2 separate regions of the Homo sapiens genome follow, and region 2 is linked to region 1. The links come from fine-mapping of genetic effects on plasma protein levels. A gene starts in region 1. The other region holds a variant in brackets. All regions are shown on one strand. Distances are from middle to middle.

Region 1 (15,622 bases):
CAGGCTAGTCTTGAACTCCTGACCTCAGGTGATCCGCCCACCTTGACCTCCCAAAGTGCTGGGATTACAGGTGTGAGCAACCACGGCTGGCCAGATATTTTTATTTCTTACCAGTTAAATTACCTACCACTCTTCCTCTTTCTCCCCACCCCGGCAAAGGGGGTCGTCTAGTAAAAGAGGATCTTCCAGGAAGCAGGAAGATGTGGCACTTCTCTCTGGGGTATTTTGTGTTCCCAGAATACTTCCAGCATTCTTGTTTAACAAGCATTGTGAAAGACTTCTCTTCAGATTTAGTTATTTGTGTTTAATATTTTACACTTGATCTCAGCCAAAAGACCAAGAAGCGATGTCTGTTTAATATTTTGATGGCCAGCCTCCGTACCTTGCTTTACTCAGAGAAAAATAATTGGCTTTTGTCCATTTGGTCCAATCAATGCGAGGGTCCAGAATGCACCCCTTCCCACCCCTTCCTTCCACGCTGCGGCGCCCACAGCCCCGCCGGCAGCGGTTGCACACGTCCGAGAACAAACAGCCTGCCGGGCTCTCCACCAGGAACCGGGAACTCGACAGCCTGTTGCGACTCCTCGTGCTGTCTGCCCCTCTGACCTCTGGCCTCCCTGGGGCCTGCTCTCTCCTCCCAGCCCCGCCCCGCCTTGCCTTTGAGTTCCCACCTGCCTCCCGCGGTAGAGGTGTCAGGTCAGGTCTGCTGCATCCTGAGCCCTCCTCCTGCTGCCTGTGCCCTCACCTGCACACACAGCCTTCAGCCCCGCATCCTGCTGGAAAGCAAATAGCGCTCCAGCTCTTAGAGACCTCCAGGGGAGCAGTTTCTACAACCTCTGCAGGAATCTCGTTCTAACATCTCTCAACTCTCACACAGAAAAAGGCCTTCTTTTCATGAAATCTCAATTCCTTTCTGTTGCAATGAGCATGGAGTTGCTTTTATTCTCTGCTAGTTTGAGCTATACTTAAACAAGCCTAATTCCTCATGATATTCTCCCTGCCTCACCAAAGGATGGAATATTGGCTTCACTTCTGCTCAGCCCTCATCTATGGTGCGTACAGGCCTGAGTCTAGGCTGGGATCCTGCCTCTGGGGTGTGAACAGAGCAACACTGAAGCAGCGAGGACCCTTTACCATGGAGGCAGGGCTGAGCCAAGGGTAGCCCTGAGCTCTTTTGGGTGCCTGGAAGTAAATAACTGACACTGACTAAGGGCCTCTTGTGGGCCAGACCTTGAAGAGGTTTATGGGAAATATAAAACCAGGTCTCTACCTTCAATAATAGCATCATAAAAGAATCACTTACTGACTCAACTCTGTGGACAGTGGAGAATGCACTGATTTTGGCCCAAGAGACTTACATTTGCATCCCAGCTGTGTCTTTGTTTGTTTGTTTGTTTGTTTGTAGATGGAGTCTCTCTCTGTTGACCCAGCTGGAGTGCAACGATGCGATCTCAGCTCACTGCAATCTCCACCTCCTGGGTTCAAGCAATTCTCCTGCCTCAGCCTCCCAAGTAGCTGGGATTACGGCACCCGCCACCATGCCCAGCTAATTTTTGTATTTGTAGTAGAGACGGGGTTTTGCCATGTTGGCTAGGCTGGTCTCAAACTCCTGACCTCAGGTAATCCACTGGCCTTGGCCTCCAAAAGTGCTGGAATTACAGGCGTGAGCCACCGCGCCCGGCTCCAGCTCTGCCTTTTATTAGCTGTGCTATTTTGGGCAAGACACTACACCTCTCTGAGCCTTCATTTATGTGTCTATCTCACAGGTGTTAATGAGGATTTTTTTTTATTCTATAAAGTGCTACACAATTAAAGGATTATCATAGATTGGGTGGGAAGAATATGAAGGCGGGGCTCTACATGTCTGCAATAGGAGAAATGCACATGTGATGTGCTAAAGGGCTTGGAGGAAGAGAAAAGGATGAAAATGAGTGGCATTTCACAGGAATGACAGGCAGAAGGAGGTGACAGTTGGGCACAGAGACAGGGGAAAAAGAAGGGAAGAAGGATGATAGCTATCATTTATGGAATGCTCACTATGTGCCAGGCGTTCGGCTAAGGGCTTTGCGTACATTATCTCACGTATTCCTTATGAAATCCCCGTCATGAGGTTTTATTATCCTCATTTTACCCTTGCATATGGTAGGTCATAACATACCTCCATACCCTCAAGCTGAACCCATGAGATATACATCCTATCTATAATGGAATTTGGTGCCAAGATGAGGATACAGCTTTATAAAAAATCAGAGAAGAACCAAGCAAGAGATGCAGAGATAGGTGGTCAGGGCAGAGGGTTTTCCACAAACCCTGGTTAATGACATCAGAAGAGTAATCAGAAATGATTGCCCTTACAAACTTCAAACATGGATTCCTTTTTCCAGATGCCATCGGTTTTTGTCCACCTTGTTAGCCCTCCACTTCTATCTACTTCCTGGATGGCCCATTTCCTTACTCTTCTCTTTCTCTTATGTCCCCTTTCTCTCTTCTTTACCCTTCTCTTTCTCTTATGTCCCCTTTCTCTCTCTCTCTTTCTCCCCGCCCCCCTCCTCCACCCCTCCTCACACATGCACACACACACAGGCTCAATTACCTTTTCCATCTTCTTTTGTGTCAATGTCTGACTCTATGGATGACAAGCTCTCCATGCTCGGTTTAGACACTGAAAACAGGCTATAGCTACAGACACTCTTCCCACCCGACTTTGCTCCCTCTCCCGACATCCTCCCTTCCCTTTCTCTCTTCTCTTGATTCTTCCCCTCCTTTTATTTACTCCTTCCTGTTCCCCTTCCTCTTCTGTTCACTTTTCACCCATTTATCTCTCTTCCCTTAGGATGGAAACTGACGAGGGCATCCCTAGCTCAGGAGCTCCCTGGCATTTGCTGCTAGTAAATGTATGCTACCACCACCCAACTGCTGACAGGGTTTTTCTTTTCTTTTCTTTTTTAAACCATGACCATGAGCTCATGTCTGTCAGAAACCTGGCTGGGTTGGCAGCTGGATATGCCAGACCAGGAAGGGCTGGAACCCAAAACAGGACCTGTCCACCAAGGCAGGGCCAGGGTCTGGGGAGGTCCTGGGAGCTGGAGGCAGAAGTGAGGCCAGGTTGGGGGCATGTTAAAGGAAGCTGGCATGAGGCAGTTGGCAGAGGTTCAAGAGGGCAGTTGATGCCTGGAATGTGGGGCAGCAGGTGTTAAAGACTCAGTCACAGGGAAGAAAGGAAAGCATCCAGAGCCCAGAATCCTAGGCCCTGAGGTCCTGGGTCATGGGGTAGGGCAGCAGGAGGTGAGAATGGATGGAGACCCAGTGACTGGAGCTGGGGGTACCAGCAGGAGCTCTCTCAGAAGAAAAAGGTAACAGTGGGGTCCTAGGACCTGAGAAGAAAGGTAGAGCAGGACCAAGGTCAGCAACAATGATAAAGATCCAAGATGAAGCTTCCCTGCTGTTGACTTGGACTCCAGGGAGCCTGTTTATCATGAAGACTGCTGGCTGAGCATCTCAAGCAGGAGTAGAGAGCTGTGTGGTCAGCGGCCCACCATGGCTTTCCTTTTCCCATCTCCCTCCCTGCATCACATTCTTAACCAGCCCCTCAGATTGCAGAGCCACCCCCACGACAGTGTGGGAAAACCCCGTAGCTCACTGGACACATAGGCAGGTAAGTTCCTGGAACCCAAGCCATTTTGGCACAGGTTAACATGATAAGCAGACACCTGCTTGCATCGTTACCTCCAGGCTTCCCCCTGCCCCACAGCCTCGAAAGTTTCTAACCAGACTTCCCCAGGATTCCATCATGTCCTCCTTCTTCCAGCATCCCTTTCCTGGGGCTGCTCTGCCTGCAGAGTTTCCCTGCAGCATGCGCTCACAGCTCAAGGTCTTCTGAACAAACTCTCTGGCCATCTGGAAGACTCCTTTCTGCATCTGTGATGGCTCTGGCTCTGGCCCTGACTGAACCATCCCCCAGGGTTTGTGGCTTCTCTAAAAGAGTTCCTGTCCAACTTTACCCCTAACCTACCTCCCCTTGAAAGTCCATCCTATGCATCTGCCTCTTACAAGCCACAAGTGCATCTGAAACCCAACGGCCATGTGATAAATGTGTACTCCTTGGGAAAAAGGGACGACCCCTCCATACGACTTGGTTTGAGAAGGGGTTATTTCCTCATACCCCCTTTAGCTCCTCATTTCTTTCACAGTTTGTGGTTTCCCATTTTCAACTATTGCTGTTTTTCCACCCCCTTACAAAAAGATTCATTTCTTTTGAGACAACCAAGCCTAAAATACACAATCCCTTATCTACAATTCCAAATCCCCAAATCTCTGAAAGTCAAAAGGATTTTTGTTTTGCAAGTTTGATGCCAAGACTCATCTGGTAGCAAAATCTGACCTAAACTGATGTGAAGTTACTTTATCCTCACACCTGCTTAGTGTAAACTTCATATATTTCATTGCAGAAATATTAATGTGTCTGATTTCAATATGCTGCTCAAAGCTTCACTGAGAATGTTTATGTATGGTGCCTTTCTGAATTCTAAAATGCCTCTGGCCTCAAGGGCTTCAGATAAGGGTGTGAGGAACTGTACCAGCCTCTCTGTTCTCCTGTGACAGAACTCTTGGGACAGAAGCATCTCTAAGATCTGGTGTCTTGACTTCTCACCCGGAGAGAGAGAAGATAGCCAAGTAATCTTCTAATGTAGAGAGAGAATTAACAAAGTCATTTGTCAATGAAAGGACATGGGGTCTGGAGGTTGTCTTCAGTGTTTCCTACAGTTTTTGTCCTGTCCTTAACTTGTTGCATGACTGTTAGCAACTTGCGTAAAGTCCAACCTCTCTGATCCTGGACTTTAGAAGAAAACTAGCTCCTGAGAACTCCTGCTCCAGTGATGTTGATGATGACTAACACACACAATACATCTTGAGTTTTTAGAAAATGAAGTACTGTACAGCTTTAATAGTATTTTTAAGTAAATAGGTTTAATTGGAATAACTCAGCAAATATCTAATGTGTGTTCACTCTGTGCCCAGTTTCATGCTGGGTTCTGTGAGGTAGTCAACTGCAAGGTACAAACTCTGGACTTCAAGGGGCTCATATTCTGATAGGGAGGCCAAGTATCACTGAGTGAAAAAAAGCTAATGTGCATCACAGGTGATAAGATGGTGTAGACCTGCAGGAGAGCTGAAAACTGCTGGCCAGGGCAGTTTTGGAAGGTGGCGCAGGAAGGAAGACTTGGTTTGGGTATGAACAGATGAGAAAACAATTTAAGCACGTTCCCCAGGTAAGAATGAAGAAGTCTGTGGGGGAACACTCTGAAGAAAAAACAACTTCACTGGGGTCAAAGGACTGGAGCCTGAACAAGATGCATGGGGTAAGGGTGTGCTGAAAATGTGTGTATTAGTCAGCTCAGACTGCCATAGCCAATACCACAGACGTGGAGCTTAACCACAGAAGTTAATGTTCTCACAGTTCTGGAGCCTGGAAGTCCCAGATCAAGGTGCTGGCAGGTCTGGTTTCTGCAGAGGCCCTGCTCCTGGCTTGCAGATGGCCTCCTCCTGTTACTCAGGCAGGCTTTCTCCTGAGGATGCACAGAGAGAAATGGGAGATCTCTGGTATCTCTCTCTCTTCTTACGAGGACACTAGTCCTATTGAATTAGGGTCCACCCTTATGATCTCATTTTGCCTTAATTGCCCCTTTAAAGGCCTTATCTCCAAATGCAGTCACACTAAGGGTTAGGGCTTCACTATGTGAATTTGGTCCGGAGAGGCACAATTCAGTCTATAACCGTGTGCATGTGCCTCAAGAAAGCTGTGTTTGGGCAATGTGGGAGGACAAGAGGTCTCTCACGGGATTGGGGGTGGGGAAGGGCTGGAGCTCTGAGCAGACACTGACATGAACTGAGCAAATGGACATCGAGGACATCAGAGAAATGAGAAATTTTCCAACCAGGACTGCCTGGCCCACTGGGCTAAACCCTCACAAGTTCAAGTGCTGAAGCCAGATTGTATTCCCTGGAGCACTTCCTGGCTGGAACATCTCCATCATTTCCTGCATTTTTCTGTCCTTCCCTAGCACCTTTGGTCTGTTGTAACCTTACCTGGCTAGCTGCAGGAAAGTGTGAGATTATTACAGAGTTATTTTGCACAGAGCACCTATTCACATCTGGTTGGCTAATGCTGATAATTACCGTGCTGGTTACTAAATCTGTCGGGTCTGGGTGAGGTGAGGCGCTACAGCTGGGGCTGCTGTGCACAGCTTCACCGGAGAAGAGAGAGGTGAGAACAAAAACCAAGAAAGGTGTGCTCAGATGTTTGGGATTGAGTGAAACTGGTTAATTACCAGTCACTTGCTGTCTCCCTGAGTTGGAGTTTCTGGCTAAGGAATGCTCATAGATCAGACATAATATGACAACCTGCAACTTATTTCCACATTAAGAGGGTGGCGGGGACCAAGATGCAGAGAAAGTGTGGAGACAGTCTCTCAGGTGCCAGAGCCTTGGCCAGATGACTCAGATGCCCTCAGAACAAGGTGGTGGCATGTTCCAGCAGGGTGCAGAGCCAACTGGACTCCTTATGCAGAGAGCTGGGGATCAGATATGGCCTTGGGGGCAGAGTCTATTTGCCGATAGATGAAGGTTCTTAATCAGGGCCCTAGATTAAGTTTTAATGATCCACGAACCCTCCTAAAGTTGCATGTCAACATGTGTGTATGTGAGTGAGCATTTTTATAAGCAACAGATCCATAACATTTATGAGATTCTTGAAAGGTTCTAAAGGGTCTGTGATCCCCAAAAGGAGGGTGATTATAAACTACTGTCCTAGACCCCTGAAGAAACAGGTTGACATTGGACCGAGCCCCAAGAGACTCAGGGTTCCTAATGATCCTGAAAGTATACTCAAGGTGTGTGTGTGTGTGTGTGTGTGTGTGTGTGTGTGTGTGTGTGTAAATGTGTGTGTTTGTATATTTTTCTAGAAAAATGATTCAGTAATTTTTGCCAGATTTTCAAAGGGGCCCACAACCTTACAGGCTTGATGGGGGCTCAAAAAGCCAGAAAGTTTGTCTGTGCCTAGCTATTTCTTTTCAGAGGAAGATCACAGAGACCTGAAAACAGAGCCCAGACTAGGTCCTGGTAGTTCTGCTCAAAATCTGTGGATAACAGGGGCCAGAGGCTGGATGTGTGGCCCTCTATAAAAGAACACATTCAAATCATTCTAAGAGTCAAGGGCCCAGAAGCCAGACTAGTGGGTGATGGTCACAAAAGCGTCAACGGATGGGAAAACAGTCCTAGCTCCTTCCCTCTCCGATGGTGGATTCCCAAGTCTTTCTCTTCTGTGGCCCCTTTACCTGGCTTTCAGAAACCCAAAGACCTCACTCATGGAAGCTCAGAATTCATTCAATAAACACTGAGCGCCTACTATGTGCCAGGCTCTATTCTAGGCGTAAAATAAAGGATTTGCCTTCAGAGTGTGACCCACCAAGGCCAGTTTCCTGCCTGAACAGGGGTATTTTGAGCATTGCTGATCAAGTGTGTTTTTCTGGCGCTTAGCACCCCCATTCCCCTGGTCCAGAGAGGCAGAAACCATCCCCCCACCACCACCAAGGCAGCGGGTTGGGGGCGAGGAGAGGCGGGCAGTACCTGTGATCAAAGCGGTGAGGGAGGCTAGTAGGACGCAGGCGGCAGGAGCGGGTGGGCCAGGCCCGACTCGGCCACTGCTGGGGTAGGGACTAGGTGGGATGGGGTGGGGGCACTGCTGGTGGGGACGGGGTGGGGTAGAAGCGGCGCTGCCCGCAGCCGCCTGGGCCTCTGCGCGCCTGATCTCCGAGCTGCGCTCGCCCGCTCCCCGCCTGCGGGGGCCGTCGCGGAGCCCTGCTCTCCATACTGAGCAGTCCCCGGGAGGTGCTCGGACACGTCCCCAGGCTGGATAAAGATCGGCTCGGCTCTAGCTCCGTAGTCGAAATCTCGCCATCAGCGCGGCTCGCTCGGCCGCTTTGGCCCGGCCCGGCGACGCCAGATCGCTATCCTGGGGGGAAATGGGAAGGCAGTGCAGCCGCTCCCGCCTCCACCCTCGGTCCTGCGCGCAGGGGTGGCCGCGGGGTCCTGGGGCTCGCCGCCCTCCCCTCCCCCTTCGCGTTCCTTCCCTGCGCTGCCTCCCGAGGGACCCTCGCTTCCCTCCGGCCTGGGGCCCCCAGCGCCCAGCCAGGCGCCCTCTCCCCTCCTCGCCAGGCCTCGCTGCCGCCTGAAGGTTACGCGACGCAGTGGCGGGGCGCGGGGGGCGCCCGCCCTCGCCGCCGCCTTCGCCGCCGCCCACCCCAGTGGCCGCCGCGCCGCGCCGGGCCAGCCTGGCTGCCGGCTGCTGCCACCGCAATCCCGGCTCCTAAATCAGCGCGGGGAGGCGCTCCCTCCCCACGCCCGGCTCTCCGGGCTCTCGGGGCCGCGATTGGCCGCGCCGGCGCCCCCCACCCCGGGCCCCCGGCTCCAGCTGCCGCGCCATTGGCTGCGGGCCTCCGCCAGCCTTTACATAAGACCGGGCGCGCTCGAGTGGAGTTGTATAAAGCGAGCGCGCGGCGTCGGGGCGGGAGGCTCGAGGCCAGCCCGGGACCGGGGCTGGGAGCAAGCAGGCGGCGGCGCCGGCGGCAGAGGCGGCAGCGAGCGCCCGCTTCCCACGCCCCTAGGCGGCGGGGCCGAGAGCGGGAGGATGGCTCCGAGCGCTGACCCCGGCGTGAGTATCTGCACCGGTGCCCCCCACCCTAAGGCGGAGAAAGTTTCTCCAGCTCTGCGCGCCCCCCCGGATCCGCCCGCAAGGGTGGCGGGGACGCCGCCCGGGAACCCGGGAAGACTGGGATCGCGAAGGCGGCGGCTTCGCTCCTAACTTGCTGGGAGGCGCTGGACTCGATTGGCGCGCGGAGCCTCCCCCGCGGGCTGGGGGTGAGGCGGCGGCCGGGTTGGAGGTGGCGGAGAGGTGGGAGCTGATGTGTGGGGGCGACAGCCAGCAGCTGGCAGAGAAAGTGTTGGGGGCGCACTGGAGGTCAGCTGTCAGGGGAGGGGGCCTCTGGGGCCTGGAGGGGGCGGAGCGGGTGAGGAGGGATGTGCCGGGCTATCGGGAGAGTCTCCCAGTCAGCCAGGCTGAGACCCGGGCCTGGGAAGCCACTGGCCTCGGCCGAGTGCCTACGCTTCCAGGCTGGGGAAGAGCCCCGCGGGCTGGCTCTTCCTCCCCTGGGAAGCCGAGTTCCCGGGCACAGCGCTGGGTGGCAGAGAGCTCCGGGAGCCAGCCCCGCGCGCGGCGTAGCTGCTAGCCGCCTTATGCTGGACGAGGTGTGGTCTTCCCTTCAGGCTGCCTGAGGCAAGCCGGCTTCAGGCATTCCAGGGGAACCCTGAGTCCTCCTCGACCCCGTGGGGGCACTTGGAGGCTTTGATGGGGCAGCCAGGCCGGGCTTGGGGGCATGCCCAGCAATGCAGCGCGCTTCTTTGCAGTACAGTAGTTGGGAGCCCTGGTTAGTCCCGCTTCTGCAGAAAGCAACTCAAGAATCCAAAGTCATCCCAGCCTGGATGGAAGCCTCCCAGAGTGGCGGGGAAATTCTCCTAGGGTTGAGAGCTGGGGGGGCTTCCTCCAGGAATGACTAATGAATATTGCTGCTGCTGCCGCCGCCGCCGCCGCCGCCGCCGCCGCCGCCGCCGCTGCTGCTGCTGGTGGGTGCACCCAGTGTGGCTTCTGCACATCCCAGGAGATGCTTCCGTTCTCCTGACAGGACACATTCTTGAGTTGCACTTGAGGTGTCTTCTGGGATGGGTGCAGGACTTTCCACGTGAAGCCAAGTGGAAAAGAAGGGAAGAGGGTCCCAGGACAGGGGACAGTTCTATAGTGTTTTCTTGAGTCAGGGGAGAACTCATGTGGGAAGAGATAAGCGATTGACGGAGATTTGGAACCCAGACGACTTGGGGCTGGAGATGTCCAAGACTGAATTAGAGCTCATTGAGAGTCACAGAGTACCTCACCCTCAGCCATGGGGGAGAGGTGGAGGCTGGAAAAGTGGGAACATGGTGGCTGTTCCAGCATGGTTCTTGAGAAAATGTTCTCTCTCTCTCTCTGACTTGGTTAAGAACATCCTTCTGGCAGTAGGTCCTAAAGTCAATTTAAGAGGTAATGAAGGGAGTTGAGGGTCTTGATGATGGCACAGAGGACCACAATTAGAACATTTCCATTTCCGGTGGGTACTAATGGACTCTGGAAAAGGTCGAAACGGTGTGTAGGGAGTCTGGGGAACCTGCTCTGTGGCTGCTCATTTGAGCCTGAATCCTCCACCTTATCCCATCCCTGAATGTAGGTGGATGTTCAAACTCCTAGGGTACCTGCTTCAGCCTGGAGATATTTTATGGGTGCTATCAATCTATATCCCAACCCCCAGCTCCATCGTTGTCTGCTGCAGTCAACATTTTTCTGCTGCATTTCCCAAGACCTTCTCTCCACTGGGGATTTGTGCAGCGAAATACCTGCTTGTTGCTCTTTCTTCCCTTCTCCATCTGGGCTGCACCTGGTGTTCTGAACCCTGGTGTTTATTCCTTGGTACCTTGATGTTTGGTTAAGACGTCCTATGGCTGCGCAGGGGTGCCCCTGTAAATCTGTGGACCAATGGCCTGTGTAATTCTAGGGAGTGCAATAGACTTCTATAGAAAGAATACCACCAACCGGGAAGGCAGTCCTACTAAACAGCTTGTGACAGCCTCTCATGCTCAAGCGCTCCCTTGCTTCCGTGCTGAGGCGGTGGAAGCCTAAAGGTGGAGCAGACTCCTTGGTGTCCAGTAGGGGGCGCCAAAGGTACCTGGCTCAGGACCACTGACTTTCTCACTTCTTGCCCTTTACTGGCTGTAGCAACTTAATGCTTTAAGGCAGCTCAGGCTACAGCCTTCAACCACCACCATCGTACTTGGAATCCTTCTACCACATGCTTCCTGGGCTTCAGGTGGTCCTGTGACCTCGGGTGCTATGGGGCAGGTGCAAGCACAACATTCCAAGGAGACAGAGCTGGTACACAGCCCCACCCTCTCTCGGGGATCATTCCTTTGTGCTTGGTGCCGCTGTGTTCTTTGAACTCTTTAAGGGTTCATGGAGTTCCAGAACATTAGAGCCAGAAGCAAGGAGCCTTGGAGAGCATCTCATCCAACCCCATTCCATCCCAACACTCACATGCACATTTAATTTACAGATGAGAAAACTGAAGCTGGATAAAGCCAAGGTCACATGGCTATTTGGTGGAAGACATGGAACTAGGCCCTAGGATTCCCACTGCTCGATTCAGAGCTGTTTCCACTCCAGCGGCCTGCTTCCTCTTCACTATAAAGATGGACATACTTTCTCTATACAGTAGGCACTCATAGTTATTGACTGACCAGGCTTTGGTAAATTAATACATCCCATACAGTTGGGGAGATTCTATTTTGAATCTGTTTTTCAGAGTGAGGAGGTGAGGAGAAAATACAGTTCTTGTCATGGACATACACAGGTCATAGAAATTCCTAATTATTCTTTCCCTGCCTCTACAATCTCGTCTCATTATTCCAAGTGGTGTTTTAAGCAAAAGCCATGCAAGTCCAGGTTTCAGTCTGTGCATTTAGGAGTCAGAAGTGCCGAGTCCCTCACTGTGGTCTTGGAACCCAGGTCTGGAGCGCCAAGGAATGTTGGCGTGGGGTCTCTCTGCTTGCAGTCACACCACTGCTGGTGAGACCTCCCAGATTCAGATTATAGATGGATTGGAGAGTTTCCAAAGAGTATTTGCCTATTTCCCCCACCCTTGCTGCTCCCAGCTCAAGGTCAGAGTGCTAGGACATTCTATTTTTGCCAAATCCTTATGTTTGGACTTCTTCGGTGACCTGCAAGATACTACCATTTCCATTGCCCTTTCTTCTGTTCCGAGAGCCTGGCTGTCGACATCTGAGCTGGGCTCTGGGAAACAGGTTTGCTGAGTGGCCTGTGGGCGGCCCCCTTTGTTCTCTTTTTTTTTTTTTTGAGACGGAGTCTCGCTCTGTCGCCCAGGCTGGAGTGCAGTGGCGCAATCTCGGCTCACTGCAAGCTCCGCCTCCCGGGTTCACGCCATTCTCCTGCCTCAGCCTCCCGAGTAGCTGGGACTACAGGGGCCCGCCACTACGCCCGGCTAACTTTTTGTATTTTTAGTAGAGACGGGGTTTCACTGTGGTCTCAATCTCCTGACCTCGTGATCTGCCCGCCTCGGCCTCCCAAAGTGCTGGGATTACAGGCGTGAGCCACCGCGCCCGGCCCCCTTTTGTTATTATCTCCCCACCTGGCTTCTTTGCACACTGGATGGACTTCCTCCTGGTTCTCCTTGGAGCCTCAGCAGACTCGGAAGCCTACCCTCGTAAGAAACCCACTGCTGCCAAGCCAGAATTCTGAGAGGCGGAATCCTCTTCTCTCCCTAAGACTCACGAAAGGGATGCTTGTTGCCAGGGAAGATGCTTGAGTCCCCTCCTCTCCCTCATGCTCACAGAAGATGAAGTTGGAGCTTCATCTTCAGCGGGAGGAGGGAGGTGCAGGATCACGTGGACCACCGGAGAGGAAAAGCCCCTCTCTTTAAACTGGAGTCTTAAGAGGCTATGCTTGAGATCTCACCAGCTCCTAGCTTTACCTGGTGAAATGAGCCTGCATTCTCAAGACTTGTTCTGGTTCTGGATAAGACCAGAGGAATATACTTACATACATTGTGGTTATAGTACAAGCTCTCTGGACTTTTGTTTGAATGCGGGAGTGGGTAGAGAGCTTGAGAAGTGGCATTAGACTATGAGAAACAGGAAATTGTCCAGTGGGGCTTTTATGAGCCCCACCAGATGGCTGACCCTTCCCCCTCTCATTGTAATGGTAAGGACACAGGCTTAGAATCTGGTCTCCGCTTGCTGGCTTAGAGACCTTAAACAAACCACTTAACCTCTGCAAGCCTCAGTTTCCTTCTCTGCTAAATGATGAGGCTGACAACCATGTGATGAGGGTAGGGGAGCGAAGCTGGAGGGAGACAGTCTTTAGTATTCCTCTGCCCTTGGTTAGAGGTAAAGAGGTATTCAGTTGGAAGGGGATATTATTGCTGAATCACTGGGAACCCCCGAGTCTTCTTTTTCCCAGTGAGTGAGCCTGAGTGCCCAGGTTTGCACATCAGCCTCTGCTCACAGCAATATCTGGGCTGATGGGCAAGGCCTTCTTGGCAGGGCTCCCTCCTTGCCTCTTTCCCTGCCCCACCTCAGGGTTTTCACTTTGGGGTTCTGCCATGCTTGGGGAAAAGAAATTTTATGGGTCCCAGGATAATTCTGAATGTGATGGAGGGCCCTGAGCTATTGATTCCTAAGGAAGGATCTTTCTGCTGGGAGAAGCCTTCCTTGGAGCCTAGTGATTTAAGAGTGCTGACAAATTCGTGCTCACCGAGCCTCCTGCAGGCTGCAGATACAGGCTTCCAGGCCAGCCTGGGCTCTGCTAGGGATTTCTGGAGAGCCTGGCTGGTTGCTTAGGGGACATAAACCTGTGAACTTTCCTTAGGAGAAAGTATGAAATCAATTGGTTCATTATCACACCAAACACACCCCAGACCATTTAGGGCATTTAAGAAATAAGAAGCAGCAAAGGACTGAGAGGTTGTCTTTGAAAAGTGTGCAGAAAGGTGTGAAAGGGTTGGGGGAAAGGAAGGGAGAGGAAGACCGTTTTTCCCCTGAACCACTCATGATTTTTACCTTATCGAAATCCTTGAATGGTGACTAGAGGGGTTATTTTGTTCCCCCTCCCAGATATTTGGCAATGTCTGTAGACACTTTTTCTTGTTACAACTGGGGAATGGGGTGCTACTAGTATCCACTAGGTAGAGGCCAGGGATGCTGCTGAACATCCTACAGTGCACAGAACACGTCTCACAGCAAGGAATTATCTGGCCCAAAATGTCATTAACACCAAGATTGAGAAACCCGGGACTGGAGCATTGCAGCACAGAATCACAGCACATTAGAGGTGGGAGTGATTTTAGAAGTACTCTCATCCAATTCTCCCATTTCACAGCCGAGGGCACTGAGATCCAGAGAGGAGAGGGAAGCAGCCAGGATCACACTGCAAGCAAGTGACAGAGCTGGTCTGCAATTCAGATCTGCTCTCTCCTGAGACCGTTTTACCCAGATTCCCCCAGAGTTGTTGTGAAAATTAAATGTGAGCTGTGAAAACAAAAATAAATAGAAAATTATAGAGACTATATTAATATTTCTATTATTAAGAATTGGGAGTTTGTATAGTTGTATTTCTGGCTATGCCACTGACTCATTGTGCAATATTGGACAAATCATTCTCCCACCCCCATGCCTCTCTATGAGTGTGTGTGTGTGTGTGTGTGTGTGTGGTGGAGAGGTGGTCTTAGAGCAAAAAAAAAAAAAAAAAAAAAAAAAAAAGGATAATATAATCATTCTCTTTAGAGAAAGGTCCAAAGATTTGCCCTTCAAAAACCCTAGACACTAAAAAAATTAAAATTTTCCTTGAAAGAAATCATGTTGACTTTGTAAGAAGCAAAGCGTTTACTTCTTGGAAAAATTCCAGTACCCTGGCCCTGTAAGTTGGTTCCAGCCCAGGAAATCTGATCAGCATCCAGAGGAGAAACTGATAGCTCCACAAATGACAAGAGGCTGGATATGTGCCCCCTCCCTCCAAGAAAGGGTGATGGCGACTTCTCCTCCATCCTTTCCTGCTCAACCCTCCTGGCCCAGAAGTTCCACAAGGAACTTCAACGAGGGATGGGAAGGTGTGTCATTAATCAGTGAAACCTTGTTTATTTAACAGACATATTCTTAAAGAGCTCTTCCAAGGGACATTTTGACGTATTACTTTAATTAGCTATGGAAGAATTGAGAGTGCAGAGAGTATAAAATGACCCTCTCTGTTGTTTCCAGTTACTCTTATCTTTGTTTGCACCGGACAAGTACAGTGACAAGGTCATGGGAATCACTGCTGAGCCCTGGGAGTGTCCCGGTGACCTGAGGAGGGACTGCAGGGACTGCTTTCTTTCCTTACATCAGCCTTCACCTACCTAGAGAGCAGCCACCTCGGTGGAGATTCCTGCTTTGGCATTCCAGCCCTCTATTGATGTAGACCTGTCTTAAAGGAAGCATCATGTTGTGCAAATTTTAACACAGCTCTTAGGAAGGGGAACAGGCCTGGGAGCTGGAAGTTCCCCTCCCAGAAGGGCAGAGGCGCTCTTATAGGATTGGTGGGAACAGCCTTGGTTGGTGTTTTTCACATGAGGTCTGACCCTGGTCTTGTCCTCCTTGTGCTCAGGATGGGAGGTAGGAAGTCACTTGAGGCTCCCCTGAGAGGACTGAGGTGACATCCCTCCCTTCCCACATGGGAGCGTCACTATGTAGATTCCTGCCATGAATCTTCTGTGTGTCCTGAAGCAGGTCCCTTAGCCTCTGGAGGTCAGTCCCTGTAATCAGAGGAGCTGGGTGGCAGGCTCTTTCCGTCACCGGCAGTCTCTTCCTCTAAGGGGTGGCACATTCCCTTTCACTCTGGTCTCTAAGAACAGGCTCTTTCTTAGAAATCATCATCATGCACCTCTCATCTGAGAAGCTGTGTATATCCAAAGAGGCTTTTTTCAGGTGGGGAAAT
Region 2 (15,622 bases), 150 kb after region 1:
ATATTAAGGAAAAAGTAAATGTTTCTTCCTTCACCTTCCCTCAATATCATTTGATTCATTTAGTGACTACATATTTACTGAGCACGTACTGTGTGCCAAACATAAAACTGAAGATCCTTGCCACAAGCCATCTACGTTCCAGTAGAAGGAACTTATATACATAATACACATAGTAAATAGGTAAATATATAAAATGTTAGAAGATATAATGGGCTACAAAAAAAGAAAATGCAGCCGGGTGCAGTGGCTCACGCCTGTCCTCCCAGCGCTTTGGGAGGCCAAGGCGGGCAGATCACCTGAGGTCAGGAGTTTGAGACCAGCCTGACCAACATGGAGAAACCCCGTCTCTACTAAAAATACAAAATTAGCTGGGCGTGGTGGTGCATGCCTGTAATCCCAGCTACTCGGGAGGCTGAGGCAGGAGAGTCACTTGAACCCAGGAGGCAGAGGTTACGGTGAGGCAAGATTGTGCCATTGCACTCCAGCCTAGGCAACAAAAGCGAAACTCCGTCTCAAAAAAAAAAAAAAGAAAGAAAAGAAAAGAGAAAAGAAAATGCAGAACAGAGGAATGGATTGGGAGTGCAGAGAGGAAGGGGCAACAAGGAGCAGTTTTCCAACACAGTGGTCCAGGTTGGACAGGTCATGCTTGTGATATGCCTTTATTACGTGTCATATACACAGGAACACACTTACAGACACATATTTCTTGGCAATTTTTAAAATCAAAAGAATGATATTTTCCAATTGTTTCTGTAACTTGCTTTTTTTCCCCCTCTTAACCTATGTCCAAGGCTGGGTACAGCGGCTCATACCTGTAATCCCAATGCTTTGGGAGGCCAAGGAGGGAGGATTGCTTGAGGCCAGGAGTTCAAGACCAGCCTAGGCAACATGGCGAGACCCCCCTTTCTACAAAAATTAGCCCGGTGTGGTGGTGCAAGCCTATAGTCCCAGTTACTCAGGAGGATGAGGCAGGAAGATCGCTCAAGGCCAGGAGTTTGAGGCTGTAGTGAGCTATGATCACAACACTGTACTCCAGCTTGGGTAACAGAGTGAGAGCCTGTCTTACATACACGTGTGAGAGTGTGTGTGTGTGTGTGTGTGTGTGTGTACACATCCTGGACAGCATACCAAGTCTGTGCATATATCTTGTTTCCTTTCAGTGCTGTGGAGTATTTCACTGTGAGACAGCACTCACACTCATCATCTATTTACCCAGTCCCCTCTGGAAGGACAGTTAGATTGTTTCCAATTCTGAGCAGTTGGGGTGAGAAGCGGGAATGTCAACAACATGAATCTGAGAAAGGCCTGCCTTGAGGTCCCGCATGACTGAGGAGTAGAGGGGAGGGGCCGGCGGGAAGCTCCCCTGCCAGCACTCACAAGGCTTCAGCTTGCCTGCCCCCAGGGCCCCTGCCCCCTTCCTGCCTCCATGAGTCACGCGCTGCCTCCCCATGACTTTGCAGCAAGGTGCAGTGCGCATGTGTGAGTACACGGACATGTATGTGAGTGTGTACACGTGTGCATCTCTCAGACAGCCTCAGCCTTGCCCCATGTACATCGTGTCTGCTCCCGCGGGAGCACACCCAGAGGACGCAGGCCCTCACCTGTACTCCCCACCTCCGTCCATGGGTAATGAGTGCATGCGGGGTTCCCAGAGGGCCCACTGTGTTGTGCAGAGCTCTCATAGCGACATCTTGCTGTGGGGTCCCTTCTCAGTGGACCCTGCCTTGCTCAGTGGACCCCCCCCCACCAAGTTCCACAGCCCCTCTTCACCCTGGCCTGTCCCTGCTGCTCCTCGGTGCAGACGGACCTCCAGCTGAAAATAAGCATTTCTGCTTATGGCCCTGGTCGAGGGCTCCCCCACCGCCAACCTGGTTGCTCGGAACCCACCCCCAAGCCCCACATGCCCACCCTCCACTTCCCAGCTGGCAGCGGGCTGAGGCAGCTCACTCCCAAACCCGGAAAATAAAAACAACACCAATCATCTATTTGCCTCCGCCAGCTCCACTGGGAGTCACTGGCTCAGGCAGCCACCCCAACCATTCTCCCTCCCCCCTTCCCCCTCCCCCCCTTCCCTCCCGCCTCCACTGCCCCTGGTATTGCTGGTGCCCCAGCCCCACCCACACATGCCACCGCCTTTCAGCTAATTGCTTGCAGGTGACTCAGAGCTGCCTCTCCGAGCCGGCTGATGCTCATTTAGGGAAGGGAAATTCAGTGGCCCACATAAAAATTGCTTTATTAAAGTGCAAAAATATTCTACCAACTGTATTCCCACCATCTGTTTTGTTTGTAATTCTTCTGAAAAGTGCAATTCTCTCTGCCTCCTTGGCCTCTGTCCTTTAAAAGCTGCCAGAGGTGACTCACTGCTGCTCCTGACCTCATGTCTCTGCTGGTTAATGGGGGGCGCTCTTCTGCTCAGCCCTCCCCTATACACAGGCCTGGCAGGACCAGCTGGCTTCGAGGCTGCTGGTGTGCGGTGTCTGGGAGCCAGTCCCCCTCAGCCCGTGCAGCCCCGGAAAGACTTAAGATGTTACGCAGATTTCCTGGGCAGAGGGATGAGCTGCGCCTAAGGACAGGAGACTGGTTTCCAGTCCTAGCTCAGACACCTGCAAGTCACTTCCCCTTGTCAAGCCTCAATGTCAGTATCTGGAGAATGGGGATAAATACCCACCTCGTAAGTGTGAAGCCTCTGAAGCCCCTCCCCAGTCTCCTCTGATACACATTCCCACCTGATACACATTCTGACACTCTTTCCCGCTCTGAACTTCTTCCCGATCTTCAGCTACAACTTACCCTTTCACGCTGCTGTACCTTGGCCCACACTGTATCCTCTCCCTGGAACGCTCCTTCCTTCCCTTCTCCGCCTCACAAACTCTTACTCCTCCTGCAATACCCAAATGAAATGACCCATCTCTCTCACCACATGGTAACAGTGCTGTTGTGGCACTTTCCCAGCTTATAATATAATCACTTGTATTCATCGCTCCCATGGGAATCATGAGAATGGGGCCTGGGTCTGTCTCATTCTCTGTTGAATCCCAAATCCCTGCACAAAGCTTGGTATATGGTGGCTGCTGGGCGTGGGATAGGGTGGGCAGTGTAACAGGGGCACAGTAGATACCGGCTCTGGGATCTCTCGGACCTCTGCTGGGCAACTGGGCGATTCACTGCATCTGTCCATGGCTCCACCTTCTCATCTCTAAGGCAGAAATGATAACACTGGCACCTTCCTCGTGGAGATGTGAAGTTTCGATGCGTTAGCATCATAAAGCACTTGGTACAGCTTGGGGCACGCTGTCAGTGTTCACTGTTGTTACCAACACCTGAAAGCCCTTTGGAAACTGTAGGGAGACCCCATGACCAAGAGCCGATGGTGCCAGGGATGCTGAGGTGAATGGTTAACAGCAGGCCAGGACTCCTGCTCCAGGGTAGAAAGGCTGTGCTTCCTAGGAGTGGTAAGGCTGTTGGCCAGCACCCCCATCTTACAGATGAAGTAGCTGAGGCCCAGAGAGGATGCCCAAGTTAGCAAAACACAGTGGCAGAGGAGGGAGTCCTGCTGGTTGTGCTTTCTGAGGCCTGCTTATCTCATAGCCCCAGGCCCCCTGCACCACGTCTGGGTCTGGAGGAAGCTGCGGAAGCAGTACTCAAAACTAAGTCCCGCTGGTGGTGGTGACTCACGCCTATAATCCCAGCACTTTGGGAGGCCGAGGCTGGGTGGATCACCTGAGGTCAGGAGTTCGAGACCAGCCTGACCAACATGGAGAAACCCCATTTCTACTAAAAATACAAAATTAGCCAGGTGTGGTGGCAGGTGCCTGTAATCCCAGCTACTCGGGAAAGCTTTAGGCAGAAAAATTGCTTGAACCTGGGAGGCGGAGGTTGTGGTGAACTGAGATCCCACCACTGCACTCCAGCCTGGGCAACAAGAGCAAAACTCCATCTCAAAATAAAAACAGAAAAAAAAAAAAAAAAAACCTAAGTGCCGCAAGTACCACATGCAAATCTGTGATTGTCTATGAATATTCCGTGACTCTTTTGGGTCCTTTGTGGCCCTTCAGTCAGTCTGGAAAACACATTCATGTAGCTGTTCTGCAGGCTTAGGTAAGAAACATTTGCTGTTCTTTGTCTCCTTCTTTTAATGGCAAATATTTACCTTTTATATGTGCCACTTAACTTGGGAACTGTACACCCTGAAAATGCCAAATCTCTTGCGCCTCAAGATTCTACTTCAAATTAGAAAAAAAAAAAAAGAAATCTGGCCGGGTGTGGTGGGTCACGTCTGTAATCCCAACACTTTAAGAAGCTGAGGTGGGTGGATCACTTGAGGTCAGGAGTTTGAGATCAGCCTGGCCAGCATGGCGAAACCCTGTCTCTACTAAAAATACAAAAATTAGCCAGGCGCGGTGGTACATGCCTGTAATCCCAACTACTCAGGAGGCTGAGGCAGGAGAATGGCTTCAACCTGGGAGGGGGAGGTTGCAGTGAGCTGAGATCCCACCACCACACTCCAGCCTGGGTGACAGATTGAGATACTATCTCAAAAAAAAAAAAAGAAAAAAGAAAAAAAAATCTGTAGTTGGCACTCCCCAGTCCCATTTTCACCCCGCTTCTGCAGAAGGAATTCTTGTAGATTGAGGGAGTGATGAGAAATAATTTCTTGCTTGATAAAGCAAAACCCAGAACGGTAAGGTTGGGCCTGGAAAGAGAGGATTTCCCTGTGGGAAGAGAAACTGAGCTGTGTGGGAGGGGAACTCAGTGTGTGAGGATGAGCCTCTGTCTCCGAGCCTCTCCGTTGCTGCTGCCTGCTGTGCCCATGAGGGCAGCGGCTGCCTCTCCATGGACTCTTCAGAGTGTAGCTCTGGTCCTGGCCCTCATAGGCTCACAGCATGGCAGCAGCAAGGCTGGGATGTTCCAGTGATACTCCCCTGGAGGCCAGGGTGAGAGAGCAAAAGGAGACCAAACATGGGAAGGATCTAGAAGCTGGGGGATGTGGCTCACAAGGCGTAACTCCCTCTGGAACCTCCCTCATCATGGGTCCTCCCCCCAGCACCCGGCTCCCTTCCTCCATGCCCCACAGTGGTCTCTACAGGAAGTCTACACAGAGATTCTCCTCCAAGTCTGCATGTGGCCTCCAAACCTCCTTTTCTAAAATATGGGAACCCCTTTTATACATCAAGACATTTTGCCAACTACCGTCCACCCCATAGTAGCTATCATTGTAAAATTCATTGGTGGATAGTAATGACCAAATGCGAATATACATTCAACAGCAATTTTAAGTTTAATTTGTTTTCTAACAGTATCTACATATATTAGGAAAAATAATGGTGCATATATGTGGGTGATATATTATTTAGCCTGGGAATGGTGTTTGGGGGAGTGTATTGACTTCAGGTCCCCCTGCAGGACCCCGTGTCCCCACATCTGCTCAGCCCTGATGGGTGATAGAGTGGGCTGTGTTCTCCCCCTGTCTGTGCTGGGCACAGCTCTCCTTCCCAGGGGCTGACCTGAGAGCAGCCTCTCCTGGAAGGTGAGGCCCAGCCCCCGCCTCCTCCCCACCCCAATCCATCACCATTAGCCTGACCTTGCCACAGTGACGGGCCTGTTTCCTTACGCGGGGAGCTGGGGCCTGCTTTGACAGTGCCTAAACATCTGACAAATCTTTTCAGCCTGCTTTCCACCAATGATGTGGCACGTTGCTTTAGGGTTGTGTGCAAATGGATTCACTGTGAATATCTCTGAGGTTCCCATCATCTTCTGTAAGCATCTTAGATTTGTAGAATGGTCTTTCTCCCCTGTCCTCCACCTGCCATCTCTTTATCACTCCATCTTTTCTAAGTTGTTTTTTGTTTGTTTTTATTTTTTTCAGAAACAGGGTCTCACTATGTTGCCCAGGCTGGCCTTGAAGTCCTGGGCTCAGCCAATACTTCTGCCTCATCCTCCTGAGTAGCTGGGATTCCAGGCATGAGCCACCATGCCCAGCTCTTTTTCCAAGTTATTATGTAGAGCTCAGTGCAAATGCCGCCTCCCTAAGAGGCTGTCCCTGACCACCTGACTAGACAAGGCCCTGGCAACCCCCAGCTCCTCCTTACCTACTTGCCCTACTTTTGTCAATATCTGGCATTATTTATTTGTTCATCTGTTTGCTTGTCTCCCCAACTGGACTGGGAACTCCATGAGAACAGGGGCATCCCCAGTGACAAGAGAGAGCCTGGCCCTTAGCAGAGCTCAATAAATAGAAACACAAGAAGCATTCCTGGGATAACAAAGCCAGTTAGCTGCACAGCTGGGATTTGTCCCCAGGTCTCCCACCCACTTCCCACCATGCTCTTTCCAACATACCAGGTAAGGGGTAGAGCCATGATTTGAATGCCAGACTCCAAAGACAACCTGCTTATCACAGGCCTTACTGTATCCTCCAGTACAGCCTCCTGATGCTTGGCCTGTCTGCTAGAACGTGAGTTCAAGAGCTGCACTATCCAACATGGCAGCCACCAGCCATGTGTGGCCATTAAATTTAAATTAATTAGAGTTAAATAAAATTGAAAATTCACCTCTTCAATCACGTGAGTCCCACTTCAAGTGCTCAACAGCCACATGTTACCAGTGGCTACTGTACTGGACAGCACAGATGCAGGACATTTCTGTCCTTGCAGACAGACAGGTCTATTGGACAGCATTGCTCCAGAGAGGAGGGACCTCAAATCTGTCTTGTTCACCATTTCCCTAGCACTTAGAACAGTGCTCAATTCATGCTTTTATTCAATGGATGAATTAGTTGATGCTGATGCTTCCGCTGAGAGCCTCCTGCTCTCCTCTGCTGCTGATGCTCTCTCCTTCTGCCCCTCAGGGAAGGATGAAGCCAGCAGTGTGGAGGTGACGTGGCCAGATGGCAAGATGGTGAGCCGGAACGTGGCCAGCGGGGAGATGAACTCAGTGCTGGAGATCCTCTACCCCCGGGATGAGGACACACTTCAGGACCCAGCCCCACTGGAGGTGGGCAAAGGCATCTGGGCCTCATAGCCAGAAAAGCGGGCACCACCCACAACCCCATGGGCTGAAGCTGGGTTCCCAGGAATCTGCAAACTCAGCCTCTAGAGTGATGGAAATCTTGGCAAAGCGAAGGCTTCATACTGATCCCTCCATTTGTAGTTTGCACAACACTATCACACCCACATCTCTTCTGCTTCTCAAAGAATCCCTGGTGTATTGGCAGGGCAAGCATTTTTGCACCCATTTTACAGAGGAAGAAAACTGAGGTTAAGAGAGGAAATCCACCAAGGCCCACCAAGGCTGTACAGCCAGTTGTGAGCAAAGTTTTAAAATGACCCCAGGTCTGTTGCTGCCCTCCTGGTTCTTTCTGAGTCTCTGACAAGACCTCCTATTGCCCTAGGGTGGGGCTCAGAGCCTGCACCAGGTTTTCTGGAGGCTCTTTGAGGAGCAGCTCTGGACCCATCTCAGCAGTGTCGTTCCAACTCTGATGGGGTTCACTTGGTGGCGATTAACAGGAACCCACTGAAACTGACACAAATGAAGGGGGCTTATAAGGAGGATCACTCATAAAACTCAGGGAAGCTCAGGATGAGTAGAAACTGGCAGCTTGATGGCCTCAGCCCTAGGAGCTCAAGGACCTTTGTCAGTGCACTGGCTTTGGGAGGAGAGGGGCCCCTCTTCCCCAACAATCCCCATCCACCCACCTCATTCATCAGTACGGTTGATTGACATTTTGTGTCATGTGTGTTACGTTTTTAGTCCCCTGCCCCACCCCAGGCTGCTGTCTCTGAGACCCCCATATGGGCATGGTAGAGCCTCCACAGCCTGGCAGGGCCGGCTCCCAACTCTTAAGTCTCTGAGTCAATTTGTTCAAATTCTTGCTGCAAAGCCTTGAGTCTTCCCTCCTGCTAGGATGTCCACCCATCAGCCCTGGCCAGAGAGGTGGGACACAAGCATGGCTGCAGGCACCCACCCGTGTGAGGGAGAGGTTCTTGGAGAAGTGAATGTGGGCAGTGAGCAGACACCTCAAAAAGCATCTCCCAGCCCTCATTACACTTTGCCCTGACAGACCCAGCCTCAGTCACAGGGTGATGCTACAGAAGGGACAGGTTCTGTTAGACGTCCCAGCTCGTGTGGATCCTTTGCACAGGGAAATGAGCAAGAGTCTGAACCGTATCCATTCATGGCCTTCCCGCCAGCCTTCTGTTCTCAGCGCAAAGGAAGGGTCTTACAAGGGAGGGGGCTCCCCCCAGGCCCAGAGCTCAGAGCATGCCTCACACTGTGGTTAGGGTGACAACTACTCTGTGGCTGTGACTAGGAGGGAACCTGGGATGGGACCTTCTCAACTCACTCATGTCTCTGCTTCTGCCCACCTTACAGTGTGGCCAAGGATTCTCCCAGCAGGAAAATGGCCATTGCATGGGTGAGTTGCCTTCAGTCACCAGGGCATGGGGTAGAGGCCGGAATCTCCCTGGGGAATGCCCGCCTGACTCATGCCAAGGTCCAGGGTGCAAGCAAGGGGCAGAAAGGAGGACAGGGGAGGGTGTTGTTTGTCCTGGGACTCCAGATGCCAAGACAACCACCACATGACTCACCAGGGTGG[G/T]AGTGATATTAGTGACCCACAGGCTGAATCACTGCGGTTCTGGAAACTGGCAGTGTTTTCCTGCCATGAGTACCGAGAAACTGCAGATGGGAAGGAGACACACCACCAACCTGGCACAGGGGGAATAGCCACATGCCATGGCCAGCAAGTCCATGTGGAGCAGCAAGCAAGGGGGCTGGCAGGCAAGGGTGTGCATTGCCAAGGGCATTGGGGCAAAATAGTGTATGGAGTGTGGTCACAGTGTGGAACGGAGACTGCAGCCTGGTGCAGTACTGGGGCAGGCAGGTAGCTGCAGCACTACCAGGATGGCAGCTCCTTGACGGTCCAAGAACCTTCTGAAAGTCCCCAAGAGCCTGGAATGGGAAGGGGCAGCCTAGAAGTTCAGTGTCCAGGAGACCTTCACCCCCAACACTTTCCATCCCAGTGACCAGCAAGGAGGGGTCAGGCCAAGGATCCCTCCTTCCTTGAACCCTCATCCAGCATTCTTCCCAAGTCTACTCTGCAGCTGCTCATTAACCCTTTGCTACTGAGATACAGGAGTAAACAAGACAGATACCACTCTCAGGAGCTGAAAACCAATGGAGAGCCACAAAAGTAAACAGCTGTCGACCACACAGTGTGATCAGGGCCCAGATGGGGGAGGGCAGGGGCTTGGAGATGACAAAGCAGGGGCCCTAAACCAGCCTAGGGAGGGTCCTAGAAGGTGCCCTAGAGAAAGTGAGGTCCAAGCTGGGCCCTGAGGAATGAGGAGCAGTTCGGCAGTCACAGAGAGGGGAGACATGGTTCTGGTGGGGGGCACTGTCTGAACAAAGGAGCACAGGTGGGGAGGTGGAGGAGCAGTGGTGCCAAGGGTGGCTGGAGGAGGAAATGACTCCCCTACACTCTCCACATGCCCACCCAGCCCCACTCCAAACACATAGTGCAGGTGCATAGAAATTCCAGAGTCTTCTCTGCCTGCAGGAAGGACCCTTTGAGATCAGCCTCCTCTTCCTTTTCATCGCCCAACAGGCAGTTATGTGCCTCGTACACAGCAAGTGTCATGCTGGGAGCTGGGGATGTAGGCCAAGTGCCACCCCCGCGCCTCCACAAGAGGGGCATCCATTCTAGTGGAGGGAGACAGACCCTGAACGCATGACCACACACCTGGACAAGATGATTTCAGAACCCTCTGAGCAAGGTGCTCCCTGGAGACTGTTCCAGAGAGAGTGGTCAGGGAGGGCCTCGGGGGGAAGACTCTGAGCTGAGACCTGAAGGATGAGAAGGATCTAGGCCCAGAAAGAGTTGAGGGAAGGGCAGGAGTGAAAAGCGGGAGACAGGACAAAGGCTTTGTGTGTTGAAGGAGCAGGAGGGATGCCAGTATGGCCTGGAGATGATGGAGAGTCCATGAGGCCCCTGTAGGGAGTCTGAATTTTGCTCTTAGGAGCCTTAGAAGCTAAACTGGGGAGTGACATGATGTGATTCACATTTTTAAAGGCTCCCTCCAGCTGCTGAATTGCAGAGTGGATTGGAGGGAAGAGGGGAAGCCAGGTATTCTGTGAGGAGGCAGCTGCAGAAATCCAGGCAAGAGGTCACGATGGCAGGAAATTGGGTGGTGGCAGAGGAATGAGAAAGAGGTGACAGAGAGAGGTGGACTGGTGGACTGCGGGGCAGAGTGGACAGGCTCTGCTGTGAAATTGCACAGGGGGCAAGAAAGACGGAGAAATCAGGGGTCGCTCTGATTTCCCCTTGAGCAGCTGATTGATGATGGGGGTGTTGATTGAGCTAGAGAAGACAGAACAGAGGGCCAGAATATGGGCAGGGCAGGGCAGAATCTGGAGTTCTATTTTGGACATATTAAGCATGAGGTGCATCTTAGACATCCAAGTGGAGCTGTCAAGTAGGTCATGGGTTATTGTATTCGTGAGTCTGGAGCCACGGGGAGAGGTTGTGACTGGAGATAGAACTTTCGGAATCATCCATGCATGAAGAGATCACCTAGAACGATTGTAGTAGACAGAAGAGAGGACCCAGGACCAAGCCTGAGTGCCCACCCCCTGCCCCCAGCATGTAGAGACCAAGTACAGGAGGAGCCAGCCAAGGGAACTGAAGCAGGGAAACTGAGGCTCTGCGAGGAAGGCACATTCCCAAAGCCAGACAGTGTATAGGCAGGCAGAGCCTGGGCTGGTACTTGCTGCCCCACACCTTCATGGTGAGTGGTTCCCCTCGCCTTGCAGACACCAATGAATGCATCCAGTTCCCATTCGTGTGCCCTCGAGACAAGCCCGTATGTGTCAACACCTATGGAAGCTACAGGTGCCGGACCAACAAGAAGTGCAGTCGGGGCTACGAGCCCAACGAGGATGGCACAGCCTGCGTGGGTGAGTGGGGCCCCAGCCATAGGCCAGTAGCAAAAGGATGTTGCTTTCCACTGGGGAGCTCTGGGTAGGCCCCAGATCAAGGTCCCCAGCCCCTTCCTTCTCCTGGCTGGATAGAGTCTCCTTTGACCCATATTGGGTCTCCAGGGAAGACCATGACAGAGGCTTGGAGAAGCCCCATCACTTCTACCATCACCTGAAGGGCCAGGGGATGCTGTGTCCTGGCCTGAGGCTATCATTCTTCTTACTTTTCCTAAAACAACTGTTCCTACCTTGAGGTCAGCCCGTATTTTCATAGCTGGGATATAAACTAACTCCTACTACTCATCTTTGGCTGAATTTCTAAACTGGTAATTTCTTCTTCCCAAACTCCTTCCTCCACCCCCACCCCGTCCCCACCCCCTTTCTCTTTTTCCCATTTTCTGTCTCCCCGCCGCATCGTTTTTGCAGCTCAAGTGGCCTTTTTAGGTGGGTATTCTTCAGCCGCCTCTAGAATCTCTGAGCCTCTCTCTCGGGCCTCATATCTTTCTCTAGGCCTTGGACTTTGCCTTCAGTTATATGCACTTTAAATCCCATCAATAAAGGAAAAAACAAAACAAAACTAACAGCCTTTGTGGAAAACTAAATCTCTCTCCTGCTGCTTGTCTCTCTCTCCACGCCCAGTAGGTTCTGCTGTGTGCTCCCTCTGAATGGACAACAGGGGTGGCCATCTTTGAAAAGGGAAGGTTGGGCGATACTGACACAACCTTAGTTGTTTGTGAAGACTTTCTTTGCATGTTTTCTGAGAAAACAGAAAGGAAAGTCTCCAATACCCCATCCAGTCTCCCTCACTCCTTCAGAAGAATCAAGATAGTCTTGTATCCTCCAGTGTCTCGTGAGCTCATTATTTTGCCCTTAACAAAGATGGCTCCCAGGTGGTTGCTTGCCGGTTGATCCGATAATGTACCATGTGCCTGCTGGTTTGGCCTGTGCTGTTTCTGCTTTTTGCCCCTGACTTCCTGTGCTAGAGAAAGCCTTATTGGTGTTGGTGGTGGTGATGGGAGGGAAAAGGGTGGTCCTTTGGGACTCTTGATAAAAATGTTATCATTTGAACTTGCTAAGCCTTCCAGCCTCTTTTCTGAAGAAATTATGCCAATAAACTCTCTACTAGATATTAGTGCCAAACTGATGATAAAAAGGGTCTGGGGCAAGTAGAACTGATTGGAATGCTGAATTAGGAGCAGCCCTTCCACCATGAGATGCTTTGAAAGCAGATCATAACACAAAGCAGGTGTCACCCTCAGGCACCAGCAGTGGTTTGGTTGCGTACAACAATGTTCACATTTGGGGGACCAGGGTTTGGGCCAAGTGAAGGATGTGTGATGAGTGAGGGGCAGAAATGGAGTGTGTACTCTAGGCCTTTTACCTGCAGGAAGTCACTTCTCCATGCTGTGCCTCAGTTTCCCTAATGTAGATGACAAGAGAGTTGGGCTGGTATATCCCTAAGGGCCTTTCCTTTCTAAGACTCCTCAATGTCTGGCTGGACATAGGCCTGGCTCATCTCAGGTTACTCTGATTTCTAGAAAGAACCTTGCTACTTGGTCTCTGCAATCTCCTTGGAAAATAGAATGCTCCTGTAGCCAGAACACTCTTTGGAAATGATGTAACGCCACAGAATATGCTCACGACCAGCCTCAGTAGTGAAGGCTTGTTATAAAACATAGATCTATTCTTCATGGGGAAAAAAAGTCATCCCAGGATATAATAAAATTACACTTAAGAATGCAGCAACCCTTTTAAAAACATATTCAACAAAAAAAAAGCCCCTGCCATTTTCTGATATCATGGTAATACTCCTAATAAATCACAAAATATGAATTCCTTGTAGCTAGTGCTGTTTTTACACTTAGAACAGAAGCATAAATGAAAAGTTTTTAAATTAAAACAGCTACAATTTCCCTGAAAAGCAGACACCAACTTAAAAATCATTCCACTTCTAGAAAGCCCATTCCTGTGTATTGACATAGAACTAAAGATCTGAAAGGGCTCCAGAGATGAGGCTCAGAGAGCTGAAGTGTTCAAGGTCACTGTGCCCAAGGTCATGGAGCCCACTGCTCCCCAGGCCAGGGCTGGAGCCCTTTCCCACCACACCATCTTGTCAGAGGGTAACAGGCAGCTCTGTCACTGTTCAGACTATTCCCTAGTCCTTCTGGAAGCTGCTGCCTTTTAAAAAATGAACAAAGTGGATCTAAGATAGTGAGATAAGTAAAACCCAAAACCCATGGAGGAATGGTTCCAAATGCAGTGGTAAATGACAAGATAACAGAGCCCATTGACTGTCCATACACAACAGCACAAGAAATAAGGGACAAGACAACTACAGAGATGGCCTGCCAAGGACATCAGGGGGTTCAGGGTGACAGCAGACTTCAGATGATGCCTTATAAGTGACAACCATGAATGCCTTCACAATGAGTTTTATATAACAGGGTATATCTGTGTCATGTGATCCTGTTGGGTGAGTGGGGTCCAGTGAGTTGCAAAGAGGAGTTCTAAGTTCCCACAGCTGATAAGAGCACCACTGCAGCACTCAGACTCCAGGATAAGGCTTCCATTTGATTCATTCATGAGTTCAACAGATACTGATTGAGCACCTACAATGTGCCAAATATTTGGTTAGGCTCTAGGCGTACAATGGTAAATGAAGGTAACAATGGTAAGTAAAAGTAATATGTGTTGATCCCCTACTACTATGTGCAGGTACTGAGCTAGGCTCTAGGCATACAATGGTAAGTGAAAGCAATATTTGTTGAGCCCCTACTGTGTGCCCAGTACTGAGCTAGGCTCTAGGCATACAATGGTAAGTGAAAGTAATATTTGTTGAGCACCTATTATGTGCCAGGTACTGAGCTACGCTCTAGGTATGTAATGGTAAGTGAAGGTAACATTGTTGCCACCCCTACGCTGCCTTCCCTCCAGCCAGATAGAGGAGCCAAGTGCATGGGATGGGAGTGGGACACCAAGGGGCTTTCTAAAAAGTTGAGCTGAATTCTCAGGTTGCTATACCAGAAAGCAAGCTCTCTGCATTCATTCATTTACATATTCATTCAGCAAGCATTTATTGAGAATATCCTGTATGACAAGCACTAGGTTCCTCCCATGAGGAATGTGATAGAGACCCTCTAATGAGGTGGACAAGTCCCCTGCCCCCAAGATGCTTGTGTTGCAAGAGATACAAGGCTGAAAGATACAGAGGACAGGTGGATAGTGAACCCACTCAACATTACCTACCCCCTTACCAAAAAAAAAAAAAAAAAAAAAAAAAAACAGAGCCTCCTCATTGAGCTAGCAGTACAGGCTTTTTGAACAGGTGCCTCAAATTCAATGCATCTACTGGTCTGTGCTATACCAGCCACAGATTTGCGGGTGCAAAGCCACCCCCAAGCTACCCAGGCTCAGCATTCCCATTCCCCTCTTTCTTCTAATCCCTTTCTCTGAGACCCGTGGGAGCCCAAACCGTTCCGTCCCCTCCTGCACACAGATAAGTCTGTCTTTTCCCTGTCCCTTAGCCCCACCTAGGCTCCTGACATCTTTGTTGCCTTATGCTACACTTTAATTTGTAACAAAAATAACAAATGCCTTTAGGGGCAGTCAAGTAATGAAATGGACCCGGAAGGGATTATGCAAATGGAGGAGCTGGTGCCCCACCTGCCTGCACCAGGCAGCCACAACTCACTCCAGTGGGAAGGTGGGCCAGTGCTGCCACAAAAATGCTCCCCATTTTTCAACAAAAAAGAAATAATAAGAATAATACCATTTTTATTCTGCTCAAGAATACTCCCTCTTCACAGGCACATACCCCTTAAAATGACAATAATAGCTTACATTTAGTGGGCTTGGCGTGTCTGGGTTGAATCTAAACTCTTTACAATAATCAACTCGTTTAATCCTCATAATAATCTCAAGAGGAAGGTATTGTAATTATCCCACGTTTACAGATAAGCTAAATGGTTTGTGCAGGGTCATACAGCCCAGACAGACGAAGGCAGGACTGGATCCCAGGAGTCTGGCTGTCAGCTGGCACTCTCAACTACCACTCCCTTCTTCATTTGGGATGGTGAATTGGTTTAAGCAAAAGCCACAGTCACTCATGCTGCCCAGGATCAAGAGCAGGATTGGGAGGGGAAAAATGGAGCCCCTGGAGGCCTAGTGATCTGAAATAGTCCTCCCCACGGTCACGTTCAAGTCTGCAAGAAGAGGTGGCAGTGCTTGCTAATGTCGAGAGTCCCCTCGCCAGGCGGGCTCAGCCAACCTTCACTGAGGCAGAATGGTAAACCATCCACTAGGCCTCTTCAAGCATCTACACGGTTGCCAACCCTACTCTGGGAAGGTGCCATTCTGAGGGCCAGGAGTTTGATTATGTGTCACTCTGGCTGCTATGGCCCCCTCCCAGGGTCTGGGTATCACACCCAGGCCAGTGCCACTGGACCTCGGCCGAAGCAGGAACTCCGCTCCAGACTCCAAGAGCCCCGTGTAGACAGGAAGATGAGCACTTCATTTTTGCAGGGAGCCAGCCAAGTTCTTCCAACAGATTCCAGGCTGAACCTCCACCCAGACTTCCAGCCCAGAAGGCAAACCGAGCCCCTCCCTGCCTCCCTGTGCCCAGGGCCAGTCTTCTCTGAGGCCAGAACCCCAG

Which allele goes with the higher level. Positions count from the first base shown, and alleles are read on the strand shown. Strength reflects both the effect of a copy and how common the allele is.
For the plasma level of the protein whose gene starts at base 8,538 in region 1, G is the high allele of the variant in region 2 and T is the other (strong association).

What was found. PIP is the chance, under the fine-mapping model, that this variant and not a neighbour inherited with it causes the effect. Protein levels are from antibody-based Olink assays in UK Biobank. Linkage for the fine-mapping came from a reference panel and not from the study's own genotypes, which makes the PIPs less certain.
Region 2: its variant is fine-mapped to the plasma level of the CRTAC1 protein (UK Biobank, PIP above 0.99).

The regions. Positions count from the first base shown.
Region 1 is chr10:98,023,537-98,039,158 of GRCh38, reverse strand. CRTAC1 (cartilage acidic protein 1) reads left to right here and starts at 8,538. Exons shown (of 15, transcript NM_018058.7): 1 at 8,538-8,710. The coding sequence starts at 8,687.
Region 2 is chr10:97,875,577-97,891,198 of GRCh38, reverse strand. It overlaps CRTAC1 (cartilage acidic protein 1), which reads left to right. Exons shown (of 15, transcript NM_018058.7): 12 at 6,848-6,993; 13 at 8,371-8,413; 14 at 10,807-10,950. It overlaps MIR3085 (microRNA 3085), which reads left to right and starts at 15,302; the gene lies at 15,302-15,386. RefSeq lists enhancers at 1,253-1,547, 1,160-1,772, 1,773-2,385, 2,386-2,999, 7,996-9,195 and 1 more and a silencer at 8,413-8,707. The variant G/T (reference allele first, on the strand shown) is at 8,594.